Linked DNA regions of Homo sapiens. Changing the gene in region 3 together with the main gene of any one other region gives a genetic interaction. Each region holds a gene or a part of one and is shown on either strand. Other genes may lie near its edges. The genes, in order: MYH9, MCOLN1 and PTP4A3.

Region 1 (3,745 bases), on a different chromosome or scaffold from region 3:
GCCTCTCAGCCTTAACCCTTGGTGTGCTGAGACCCTGGGCTGGAGTCCTCTGCTGACAAAAGAATGGAGCCCTGGCAGTGCTGCTGCTGTGGCTTACTGAATCCCACTCTTAGAGCTGGGAAGAGTGGGGTAGTGGAAAGAACGTGAGCTTTGGAAACAGGCCGAGTTCAAATCCTGACCATGCTACTTAATAGCTTTGTGACCTTAGGCAAGTCACATAGCCTCACAGCTTGGATGTGCTTATGTATAATATGGGAATCAAGATCCTACCCTGTGGGGTTAGATGCATGAACTGAAAGAAATAAGGTATGTACATGGCCTAATATGTAGTGGCTGTATATATATATATATATATATATATATATATATATATATATTTTTTTTTTTTTTTTTTTTTTTTTTTTTTGAGACAGAGTCTTGCTCTGTCGCCCAGGCTAGAGTGCAATGGCGTGACCTCAGCTTGCTGCAACCTCTTCCTCCTGGGTTCAAGCAATTCTCCTGCCTCAGCCTCCCGAGTAGCTGGGATTACAGGTGCCCACCACCACACCCCACTAGTTTTTATATCTGTAGTTGAGATGAGGTTTCACCATGTTGGCCAGGCTGATCTCGAACTCCTGACCTCAGGTGATCTGCCCATCTCGGCCTCCCACAGTGCTGAGATTACAGGTGTGAGCCACCGTGCCCGGCTCATATATGGTTTTTGTTTGTTTGTTTGTTTTTTGAGATGAGTCTCACTCTCGCCCAGGCTAGAGTGCAGTGGCACAATCTCAGCTCACTGCAACCTCTGCCCCCAAGGTTTAAGCGATTCTTCTGCCTCAGTCTCCCGAGTAGCTGGGATTACAGGTGCCTGCCACCATACTTGGCTAATTTTTGTATTTTTAGTAGAGATGGGATTTTGCCATGTTGACCACGCTGGTCTGGAACTTCTGACCTCAAGCGATCCACCGGCCTCGACCTCCCAGAGTGCTAGGATTACAGGCGTGAGCCACCACACCCAGCACCCCCTCGCCCACTTTTTTTTTTTTTTTCGAGACAGGGTCTCACTCTGTCACCCAGGCTGGAGTGCAGTGGCACTATCTTGTCTCACTGCAACCTCCGCCTCCTGGGTTCAAGCGGTTCTCATGCCTCAACCTCCCGAATAGCTGGGATTACAGGTGCCCGCCACCATGCGTGGCTAATTTTTTTGTATTTTTAGTAGAGACAGGGTTTCACTATGTTGGCCAGGCTGGTCTCGAGCTCCTGACCTCAGGTGATCTACCCGCCTCAGCCTCCCAAAGTGTTAGGATTACAGGCGTGAGCCACCGCACCTGGCACCCCCCCCCCTTTTTTTTTAATATAAATGATCAGTCTTAACTCCCTAGGTTATCAGGTTGAGGGGGTGGGGATGAGGCTGGGGGACAGATTGTTTTCCTGGCTTCTAGCTCGGTGTTCTTTCTGCCTCTGTGCACAACAAGGTATGCGTGTATTGTGGTTGTGGACTGTGGTTGTGGACTGCCTATTCACAAGTGGCTATGAGGCCCATCTGCTGATGCTTTTGGATGCACTTGGTGATGAACTTCTGCTGAGTAACCTCTTCACAGGGCCCCGGCTGGGACAGAAGGTGTGCAGACTGTGGTTTCAGTTCAAACACATGGTTTCCTGTGGTCTGGGAGATAGCCAAAGGGTGATACAGGAAGAGCACTGGACTTGGGTGACTGGAGACCTTACTTCCAACTCTGGCTCTGGGTGAGGGGAGGTTTGATTTCCTTTTTGTTTTTTGATTTCGTTTTGAAGCAGGGTCTTGCTCTGTTGCCCAGGCTATAGTGCAGTAGCATGATCATAGCTCACTGCAGCCTCAAATTCCTGGGCTCAAGCAATTCTCTGCCTCAGCCTCCTGAGTAGCCAGGATTACAAGTGCACACTGCTACACCTGGCTAATTTTTGTGTTTTTTGTAGGGATGGGATCTTGCTGTATTGCCTAGGCTAGTCTCAAACCCCTGGGCTCAAGCAACCCTCCTGCCTCAGCCTCTCAGAGTGCTGGGGTTACAGGTGTGAAATACTGCACCTGGCCAGGTTTGATTTCCGAGGAGGTGCCGTATCTCCCTACAAAGATATCATACCAGTTTATGTGCCCACAAGTTATGTATGGGAGTGCCTGAAAAACTGAAAAATTAAGTAATTTTATTTATTTATTTATTTCTTTATTTGAGATGGGGTCTCACTCTGTTGCCCAGGCTGGAGTACAGTGGCATGATCTTGGCTCACTGCAGCCTCTGCCTCCTGGGTTCAAGCAATATTCCTACCTCAGCCTACCGAGTAGCCAGGATTACAGGGGTGCACCACCACACCCGGCTAGTTTTTGCATTTTTAGTAGAGATGGGGTTTCACCACGTTGGCCAGGCTGGTCTCGAACTTCCGACCTCAGGCGATCCACCCGCCTTGGCCTCCCAAAGTGCTGGGATTATAGGCATGAGCCACCACACCCAGCAAAATCAAGTAATTTTAATTTCCTAGGCACTCTTTTTTTTGTTTTTTGAGACTGAGTCTCGCTCTGTTGCCCAGGCTGGAGTGCAGTGGTGTGATCTCGGCTCACTGCAACCTCCGCCTCCTGGGTTCAAGCGATTCTCCTGCCTCAGCTTCCCAAGTAGCTGGGATTACAGGCGCCTGCCACCACGCCCAGCTAATTTTTGCATTTTTAATAGAAATGGGGTTTCACCATGTTGGCCAGGCTGGTCTCGAACTGCTGACCTCAGGTGATCCGCCCGCCTTGGCCTCCCAGAGTGCTGGGATTACAGGCGTGAGCCACCGCACCTGGCCAGCACTCTGGTACCTTATTGATGGGAGTGTATATTGTACAACCCTCTTTTTAGAAGGTCGTTTGGGGCTGGGCATGGTGGCTCACATCTGTAATCCCAGCACTTTGGGAGGCCAATGGGGGAGGATTGCTTGAGCCCAGGAGTTCGAGATCAGCCTGGGCAACACAGGGAGAGTCTGTCTCTGGGTTACATTAAACAACAACAACAACAACAAAAGAAAGTTGTTTGGCAGTATCTGTCAAAGCATACTCCTTCCGACTATATTCTAGGAATTCATCTCACAGATAAACTCAGATGTGCTGAAGGAAATGTCTGAGAATCTTCATTGCGGCATTGACATAGAAGATGACAGGAAACAAGTTGTGCTATTAAAAAGGTCAACTAAATCATGGTACAGCTGTACAGTGGAAGTCCTTGCATCCCTTTGAAAAATGAGGTCAATCCATATGTACTGATAGGGTGTGCTCTCCAAGCTATGTTGTAAGTGAAAAACACCAGACGCAAAGTAGTGTAAATGGTGCTTCGTTTTGTGTAAAACATGGTATGTAAACTCTGCTCTGTGCATGCAGTATTTCTGGAAAGATACTGAGACCCTGGTAATGGTGGTTGCCTAGGGTCTAGGCAACAGGAGCAGGGAGTGAGCAGTACATTTCACTCAATACTTTTTTTTTTTTTTTTGAGATGGAGTCTCGCTCTGTTGCCCAGGCTGGAGTGGCATGATCGATCTCGGCTCACTGCAACCTCCACCTCCTGGGTTCATGTGATTCTCCTGCCTCAGCCTCCTGAGTAGCTGGGATTACAGGTGTGCGCCACTATGCCCAGCTAATTTTTTTGTATTTTTAGTAGAGACGGGGTTTCACCATGTTGCCCAGGTTGGTCCCCATCTCCTGACTTCAAGTGATCCACCTGCTTCTTCTTCCCAAAGTGCTGGGATTACAGGCATGAGCCAG
Region 2 (3,745 bases), on a different chromosome or scaffold from region 3:
GTTCAAGCCTGCTGGGCTTATCCCAACTCCAGCTTCCAGACATGAGCATAGAACTCAGCCTGTATTCTAGGTTTGTCTGGACAAATACCCAAAAGATGACCTCTGGGTTCATTATAACCTGGCCCATCAGCTGACACTCTCAGAAGCCAAGGACCTGGAGAAGAGGTAATTGACAACATAAGTAATAATAATGGAACACATTCGCTAAAGACTCATTTTATCTCCCTGAAAAGCACCAGCTCCTAGAAATCATGCAGCCCTAGCATCAAATCCCAGACCTGCCACTTTACAGTAGGTTGACTCCAGGTACCTCCCTGAGCCTCCATCTCCTCATCTGAAGAGTGGAAATTTTAAAAAGGCGACCCCTTGGCTGGGCTCAGTGGCTCATGCCTGTTATCCCAACGGCTTTGGGAGGCCAAGGTGGGAGGATCCAGCCTAGGTAATACAGCGAGACCTCCCTGTCTACAAAAAAAAAACATTTTTTTTAAATAGTCAGGTGTGACGGCTCATGCCCGTAGTTAGTAGCTGGGACCCCATCTACCCGGGAGGCTGAGTTGGGAGGATCACTTGAGCCCAGGAGTTCGATGTTACAATGAGCTAGGATTATGCCACTGCACTACAGCCTGGGCAACAAAAAAAAGTTTATTAAAAAAAAAAAAAGTCCACCCTCTCCCTGAGCCTTGAGGTTGAGATCCTGAAGCTGCTCTGAGAATTCAGTGAGACACAGCAGATAAAGACCTCTTCAGCAAACACAAGCTGTTCTAATCACTGTTTATTTTTTTCCAGCCTAATGGTTAGATCTAAGCTTTCAGCAACTGCTGGAGTCAAAACCAGTCACAGTAGCCCAAAACTGTCCCTGTCACACCCCCATGGGGATGTGCTTTCTAGGGCCTGGCCCCGTGCTGCTTTCTAGGGCCTGGCCTCCTGCCTAGCAAAGCAGTCAGGATAAATGTGTGCACTGTCAGAACCTCCCTTGCAGAGAGGGACAAGTTCCCGGCCCCTCCCTTTGCAATGAGATGCTGCTGTGGCTGTTTACGACAAAGCCAGAGGGCAGGGCCCGCTTACAGAGCTGAGATTACAGCTAACCCACCCCAGACCCTACTAGCTGGGACACCGGGACATCTATCAGGTAGGGGTCCCCAGCTAGCTCCAGAAGGGGAAGCTAACACAAGGGGTCTTCCTCCAGCCTCCCCGAGGAGGGGTGGCATCAGAATTGGCTAGAAGCCCGAATTTAAGAAGGCTGCGCTTCCAGCGGTTTGGAAAGCTAAAACTGAGTTAATCGCCTGGGGGCAATCCCTCCAGCTCTCCAGGCTTGAGCTTAGGGAAGCTGAGCATTTGTCCCCTGGAATCAGGAGGGGAAGCCTGGGAGTCTCACGTGCGGGTTGGAGAAGCTGGTGCCCGCTGTCTGAGTTCCAGACGAAGTTGAGCAATCGGAACCTAGGCTCCCAGTGGGAATCCCAGGAACCTCGCCGCCCCAGAGGGAGAAGCTGGCGGCCCGGCGCGATCCCTGCCTGAGTTTGGGAACCCAGCAGAGCCTGGGTTCAGGAGGAAGAATTGGAGAGGCTGGTGCCCACCCGCCGCCCAAGTTCTAGGAGCCGTCTGCCCTTTTCTCCACCGTGAAAAGTCAGCGCTGGAGCTTAGAAAAAAAGAGACTAGGAGCTCCGCCGCCCCAGGTGGGAGACACAGCCCGCCCGCCTGAGTTCGGGGCCCCACGGTGCCGCCCGCGCCCTCACCTGAGCCGCGCGGACCCGCCGGGGCTGTCATGCTGGGGCGGGAGCGCGGGACGCAGGCGGGTACGGCGGGGCAGCCTGGGTCCGATCGCCCGCCGCTGTCACTGCGACCTCGCTCCCTCGCGGCGCGGCTTCAAACCCTCCGGCATCAGCTGATCTGTGCCTCGGTCACGTGACCCGGTAGCCCAGAGCCCCTCACGTGACCGCCTCTGGTCCCGCCCCCTGCGCCACGACAACCCCTGCCGGAACAGCGCGCATGCGTGCCTCTGCCGGCGCCCTCTGGGTCGAAGGCAGTCGCTAGGTCCTAGCGCCGACGCGCTCTGGGTGGCGGGGGATGGGCTGACTCTGAGTTTGGCAACGACGAGCTCTGCCCTGGCTCCCGGCCATGCCCCGAATCCGGTGCCAGGCTTGTGACTTCCATGTCCAGAGCTTGACCCCTTATCCTCCTTGGTGCCTGGTGATGACCCTGCCTACTATCTCAACGCTGTCTTCCTCTTTCTCCCAGAAACTCCTTTTACCCTTCTCCTGCGCATCTTCAGCAAACACGATTTCCTAATTATGTATCAAATAGAACCACTTATCCCCACCCCATGGCCCCCAGCCCAGAGTCTTCCAACATTCCTGGCCTGGATCTTTGCAGCAACCTCCTCCCCGATCTCAGCCTCCCTCCACTCCACTCTCTACCCAGCAGCCACAAGCATCTTCAAAGAATAATTCCTATCCTTCCTGCGAGAACCTGCCCTCGGCTTCCCATTGCTCTGTAATGACAGGCAGAGTCCCCACTCTCGTCTATCAGGGCCCTCTGATCTGGCTCCTACCTCCATCCAAAGCTCATCTTTCTATAGCCCCAGAGCCTTTGCATACTTTTGCCCTGGAGCGTAATGGTTAAGAATTTGGACCCTGGAGGGCAATTGGGATTTAAATCTAGGCACTGACAATGCCACTTCTACATCTTCCAGAGTCCCTTCAACTCCAAGCTGAGCGCAGTGGGCGGTGGCATGCACCGGCAATCCCAGCTACTCGGGAGGCTAAGGTGGGAGGATCGCTTGAGCCCAGGAGGTCGAGGCTGCAGTGAGCTATGATCACACCACTGCACTCCAGCCTGGGCAACAGAGCAAGACTGTCTAAAAAAAAAAAAAAAAATGTGCCTCAATTTTCTCATTTGCAAAATGGGGATATTCAAAGTCATCTACCTACTGGGGCTGTTGAGAGGATTAAATGAGAGAATGCAAAAACTATCGCATAAGGCTGGGCAAACAGTACTGATTATTAAATTAGTGATTATTGGGATTACAAAATCCTTCATTGAGAAAGCTGCCTGCCATTTATATCAGAAGTCTTGTTATGCTTCTCCTAGAATGTACTATACCCCGTAATTATTTTTTAAGTATTCTGAATTTAGTATCTATGAGCTCCATGCAGGTCGAGGCCATATTTATCTTGTTCCCTGCTGAGACCCCAGCAATCCAGAGATGTTTGTTGATTGCATAAATGAGCAACTTTTTTTGTCCACTTGTATACCTACTGTATGGGCTTTGAAGAGCAAGGGGTAAGTGAGAGGAACAGAGAGTGGTGACTAGTGGGATGGACCAGGATGAGACACTGTGGGTTAAGCTGGAAAGTCTAGCTGGTGGGCCCAAGAAGGAAGCCAGGACACTGGAGCTCCAGATTGTGGCTGGCCCTGGCCACAATGTCCCATCTCCGGAGCAAGGGGCTGTGCTCAGAAAGAAAGCACAAAAGGCAAGCCACGACACAGAGCCCGGAGGCAGTGGGAGGATTTTACTGACTGCACAACACACAACTTCCCCAGGCCCCCGAGGATGCCGGCGTCTCCTTCAGCCATCAGGCCCCAGCAGTGCCCCTTGCTCCTGTACCCACTCTGGACTCTCGCCGGTAGGGAGGGCTGGGCTGACAGTGCCACGAGTGGGAGAACAGGGGTCAGGGCAGGACACAGGGTTGGGATCAGGGCTGGGCACAGGATCAGGGTCTGGGCTGGGCACAGGATCAAGGTCTGG
Region 3 (3,745 bases):
CACTGCAGCTATCCCCTCCTCCAGGAAGCCTTCCTGGACCACCCCACCCCTTTCTGAATAGAGCCTGCTCCAGAGTCGCACAAATCCTAATCCCCACACCTGTCAGCCCGAGCTCTGGTTCTGGGGTCACAATCCCTCACGCCTGTGTGCCGGTGGCAGCCTGAGAGGTTTTGGGTCGGCTGGTGCAAAGGGTCTCATCCCCTGTGCTGGCATGCAAAGATGGCTGGCACATGCCACACACAGCCCAGGTGCCAGGAAGGACTGAAGACAGGGCTGTGGGGCGAGACAGGGCCCACATTTCTGAGGGCAGGACTCGAAACAGGCGGTTCCACCGGGCCCCGGCCCATTGCTCCTGGGGGTTAATTTGGTCTTGGAAGATGACCTGTGCTTCCCACTGTCCCGTCCCCCAGCGCCCTAGATCGGTGGGCAACGTGAGTCTTCCTAGGGGAGGGCCCGGGCCAGGGCGCTGCAGTAGGAGTGGACACGTTTCAGTCTTGGGAAGGCGGGTTCATGCAGGGACTGTGCCAGGCATGGGGCTGTCTGGTACCAGGGAGAGCCCGCTGGGCCCACTGAGGCAGACACACAGCCCTCGGGGGCATCTCACCCCTCCCCAGCCTCCAGGCAGGGCAACTCCTAGAGACAACCGGTGTCACGGCTACTTACGTCTGACCCCAATCCCTCCCGCTGCTGTGGAAGGGGAGGGAGGGTGTGGGCGCACCCCGTGCGAGAAGCGGGGACATGCCTTTGCCTCCCATTCTTCCAAGCAGCCTCGCTTTGAGGTGAGGAACCCAAGGCTCGGAGTGACCTGCAGGGTCGCAAGGCTGGGGAGGGCAGAGGCGGGACGCAGCCCAAGGCCTGTCTGACCCCAAACCGCCAGCGCTGCCACCATTCCAAACCGCCAAGCTGAGGTCACAAAACTGCAACCCCAGCCAAAAGCAGAGTCCTGGGATGAAAAGCAGTGACTGAGGGGTGCTCCGCACTGAGGAGACTGAGGCCCAGGCGCAGCTGGGCAGGCCTGCACCAGGGGGGCAGTCGTCCACCGGGCCGGGGGTGGACCCCCCTGGGGCTGGCTCTGGGCCTGCAGCTGCTGTGGCCCACCCCCCCAAGGATATCGCAGCAGAACCGCCCCACCCCCCGCCCAGACCTGGGTCCCCAGGGCCAAAGAAGCCGAGGAAACTGCCCAAGGGCCCTCCCCAGGAGCCTGCTGCCTGGCAACAGGGCCCCAGCCGCCCAGGCAGCAAGACTGAGATGCACCCAAGACAGGCCCAGAGGAGGGCCTGAGACAGGCAGAGGAGCCCACCCGCCACCTTGGCCGATGCACCAAGCATGTGCCACCCCTGCCTGGCGAACCGTGCTGGCCCACCCTAGAGACAGAAAGACGGGTGCGCAAGGGTGACTTTCTTGAGGTCACACGGCCCAACACCCTGGCCTTCCCTTGATGTACCCAGACACACACGTGGCCCAGGCACAGACATGCCCAGGGCTGCCACAGGAGGGGCACCAAACCCTCTGCGCAGGCCCGGAGCCCCCCGCCCCACCCTCCCCCGGTGGCAGCAGTGACTAGGGTCCCCGTGGCGCGCGCCTCACCACAACGGTGATGCCATCCTTCTCCAGCGGCGTTTTGTCATAGGTCACTTCACACACACGCACCACAGTGGTAGCCCCGTACTTCTTCAGGTCCTGGGGGTGGGAGGACGGAGGAGGCAGGGCTGGGCTGGGGCTGCAGGGCTCAGGGGGCAGGACCCACTCACCAGGGCTCCCAGGGCACAGCTGTGTCCCCCACAGTCACCCAGGACTTGGACATGTCCCCTCAGACCTCTCGGGGTGGAGCCCTGTCCCCTCAGTCCCCTGGGGCAGGGTCATGGCCCCTGAAGCCCCCAGGGAAGGGCATGTCACCCTCCAGCCAGGCAGACCCTGATGCAGTGAGGTCCACCAAGAGTGGACTTCAGGCTCCACTACTGGTCGAGGTAGTGTCTGGCTGTCGAAGAGCCTGTCCTAGGTCCCTTGGGCCACCCAGCAGAGGCAAAGGTGTCCCCACCTACATTCACGGTAACTGGCAGCTGGGACCCCAGCTGCCCAGCACACCACTCCCTCCTCTGGGGTGCTCAGGACCCCAGATCTACCAGCAAGGACATTTCTTCCAGAAAAGCTACTGGGTCCCCACAGCAGGAACTGGACTCCCCAGCCCACGTGTGAGCCCCTGCATCCGAACAGCGACCCCAGCTGAGCCGCAGGGATGGGTCCAGTTTTTAGGGTCTAAGAGGGGCGGGCATCAGCTGGGGCGCCTCAGAGCAGGGAGGGTGGGCACCGCTCAGATGGCAGCCAGGAGGAAGCTGGGCCCTGTACGCCAGCAGGGAAGCCCCACACGACCAGGGAAAAGGTGGTGGTAGTTCACAGCCAGGCCGATAGTTATACCCCCACTGCGGAGGATCCACTCCACAGGGGTCACGTGCGGGGGCTGTTCCCACCCCACCTGCTCTCGTAGCTATTTTGGGAGGGGTGAGGAATCAGCTGATGGGTCTTGCTGGTCACGGGACAGGGACCTGGAACACAGAGAGGCCAGCACCCAACTATCTGAGAATGCAGGGAGCAGGCAGGGTGCTGGGCTCTGTGGCCATGGGGTACCTCAGAGGCCCTCTGCACCCTCAGCAGAGGGAATGGCCACCCAGCCCACGGCTCAGCCCTGGCCCTGGTCACAGGCTGAGCCCTTCCTGATCCTGGTCACACACTGAGCCCTGATCCTGGTCACGTCCTGAGCCTTGATAGTCACACACCTCTGAGCCCTAATCCTGATCACGTGCTGAGCCCCCAACCCTGGTCACACATTGAGCCCTAATCCTGGTCACATACCGAGCCTTGATCTGGGTCACACACTGAGCCCTGATCCTGGTCAGACACTAAGCGTTAACCCTGGTCACAGGATGAGCCCTCCCTAACCCTGCTCACCTACTAAGCCTCAATCCTGGTCACACACTGAACCCTGATCTTGGACACACACTGAGCTTCGACCCTGGTCACATACTGAGCCCTGATCCCAGACACACACCAAACCCTGGCCCTGGTCACACACTAAGCCCTGATCCTGGTCAAACACTGAGCCCCAACCTTGGTCACATACTGAGCGCTAATCCTGGACACACACTGAGTCCCAACCTTGGTCACATACTGAGCCCTGATCCTGGACACACACTGAGCCTCAACCCTGGTCACACATTGAGCCCTGATCCCAGACACACACCGAACCCTGACCCTGGTCACACAGAGCCCTGATCCTGGTCAAACAGTGAGCCCCAACCTTGGTCACACACTGAGACCTGACCTTGGTTACAGACTTAACCCTGATCCCAGTCATATTCTGAGGCCTCACCCTGGCCACTCACCGTGCTGTTCTCGCCAATCTTTCTGTAGATGCTGCTGTTATCTCAGGGGTCTCAGCTGCGAGAGGGACAGCCATCTTCTGTAGGGCACCTGGCTCAGTGTCCAGGGTCCAGGCTCCCTGATGGCAAGGTGCCCAATGCCTCCTGCTGCTCTACAGTTCTTAATGCCCTCTCACGCCCAAATCTGTTTCATTATGACAAGACCATGATGGCTTATCTCATGTCACAGGGGAAAGGACTCAGCCATAAATGACCCTGCACACAGCTGCAGCCTCTCACACAGCCTGGCACAGTCAGAGGCTCTGTCAACGGCCCCGCACACAACTGCAGACGCTGCAAACGGCCCCAGGCCTGCAAACAGCAGGGCG

The links.
Region 1: changes in PTP4A3 (region 3) and MYH9 together harm fitness less than expected from each alone (positive genetic interaction), as found in Homo sapiens cells (one study listed by BioGRID).
Region 2: of PTP4A3 (region 3) and MCOLN1, changing one suppresses a phenotype caused by changing the other (phenotypic suppression), as found in Homo sapiens cells (one study listed by BioGRID).

What each region holds. Positions count from the first base shown.
Region 1 is NC_000022.11:36,381,244-36,384,988, reverse strand, and holds part of MYH9 (myosin-9), read left to right. Parts: intron 1-3,745. UniProt on the Homo sapiens protein: Cellular myosin that appears to play a role in cytokinesis, cell shape, and specialized functions such as secretion and capping. Required for cortical actin clearance prior to oocyte exocytosis. Promotes cell motility in conjunction with S100A4.
Region 2 is NC_000019.10:7,520,770-7,524,514, reverse strand, and holds the start of MCOLN1 (mucolipin-1), read right to left. Parts: upstream 1,892-3,745; 5' UTR 1,765-1,891; coding exon 1,734-1,764; intron 1,674-1,733; exon of another isoform or gene 1,353-1,673; intron 166-1,352; exon of another isoform or gene 1-165. Other genes in the region: ZNF358 (zinc finger protein 358), read right to left, coding at 3,566-3,745. UniProt on the Homo sapiens protein: Nonselective cation channel probably playing a role in the regulation of membrane trafficking events and of metal homeostasis. Acts as a Ca(2+)-permeable cation channel with inwardly rectifying activity.
Region 3 is NC_000008.11:141,422,983-141,426,727, reverse strand, and holds part of PTP4A3 (protein tyrosine phosphatase type IVA 3), read right to left. Parts: intron 1,681-3,745; coding exon 1,588-1,680; intron 1-1,587. UniProt on the Homo sapiens protein: Protein tyrosine phosphatase which stimulates progression from G1 into S phase during mitosis. Enhances cell proliferation, cell motility and invasive activity, and promotes cancer metastasis.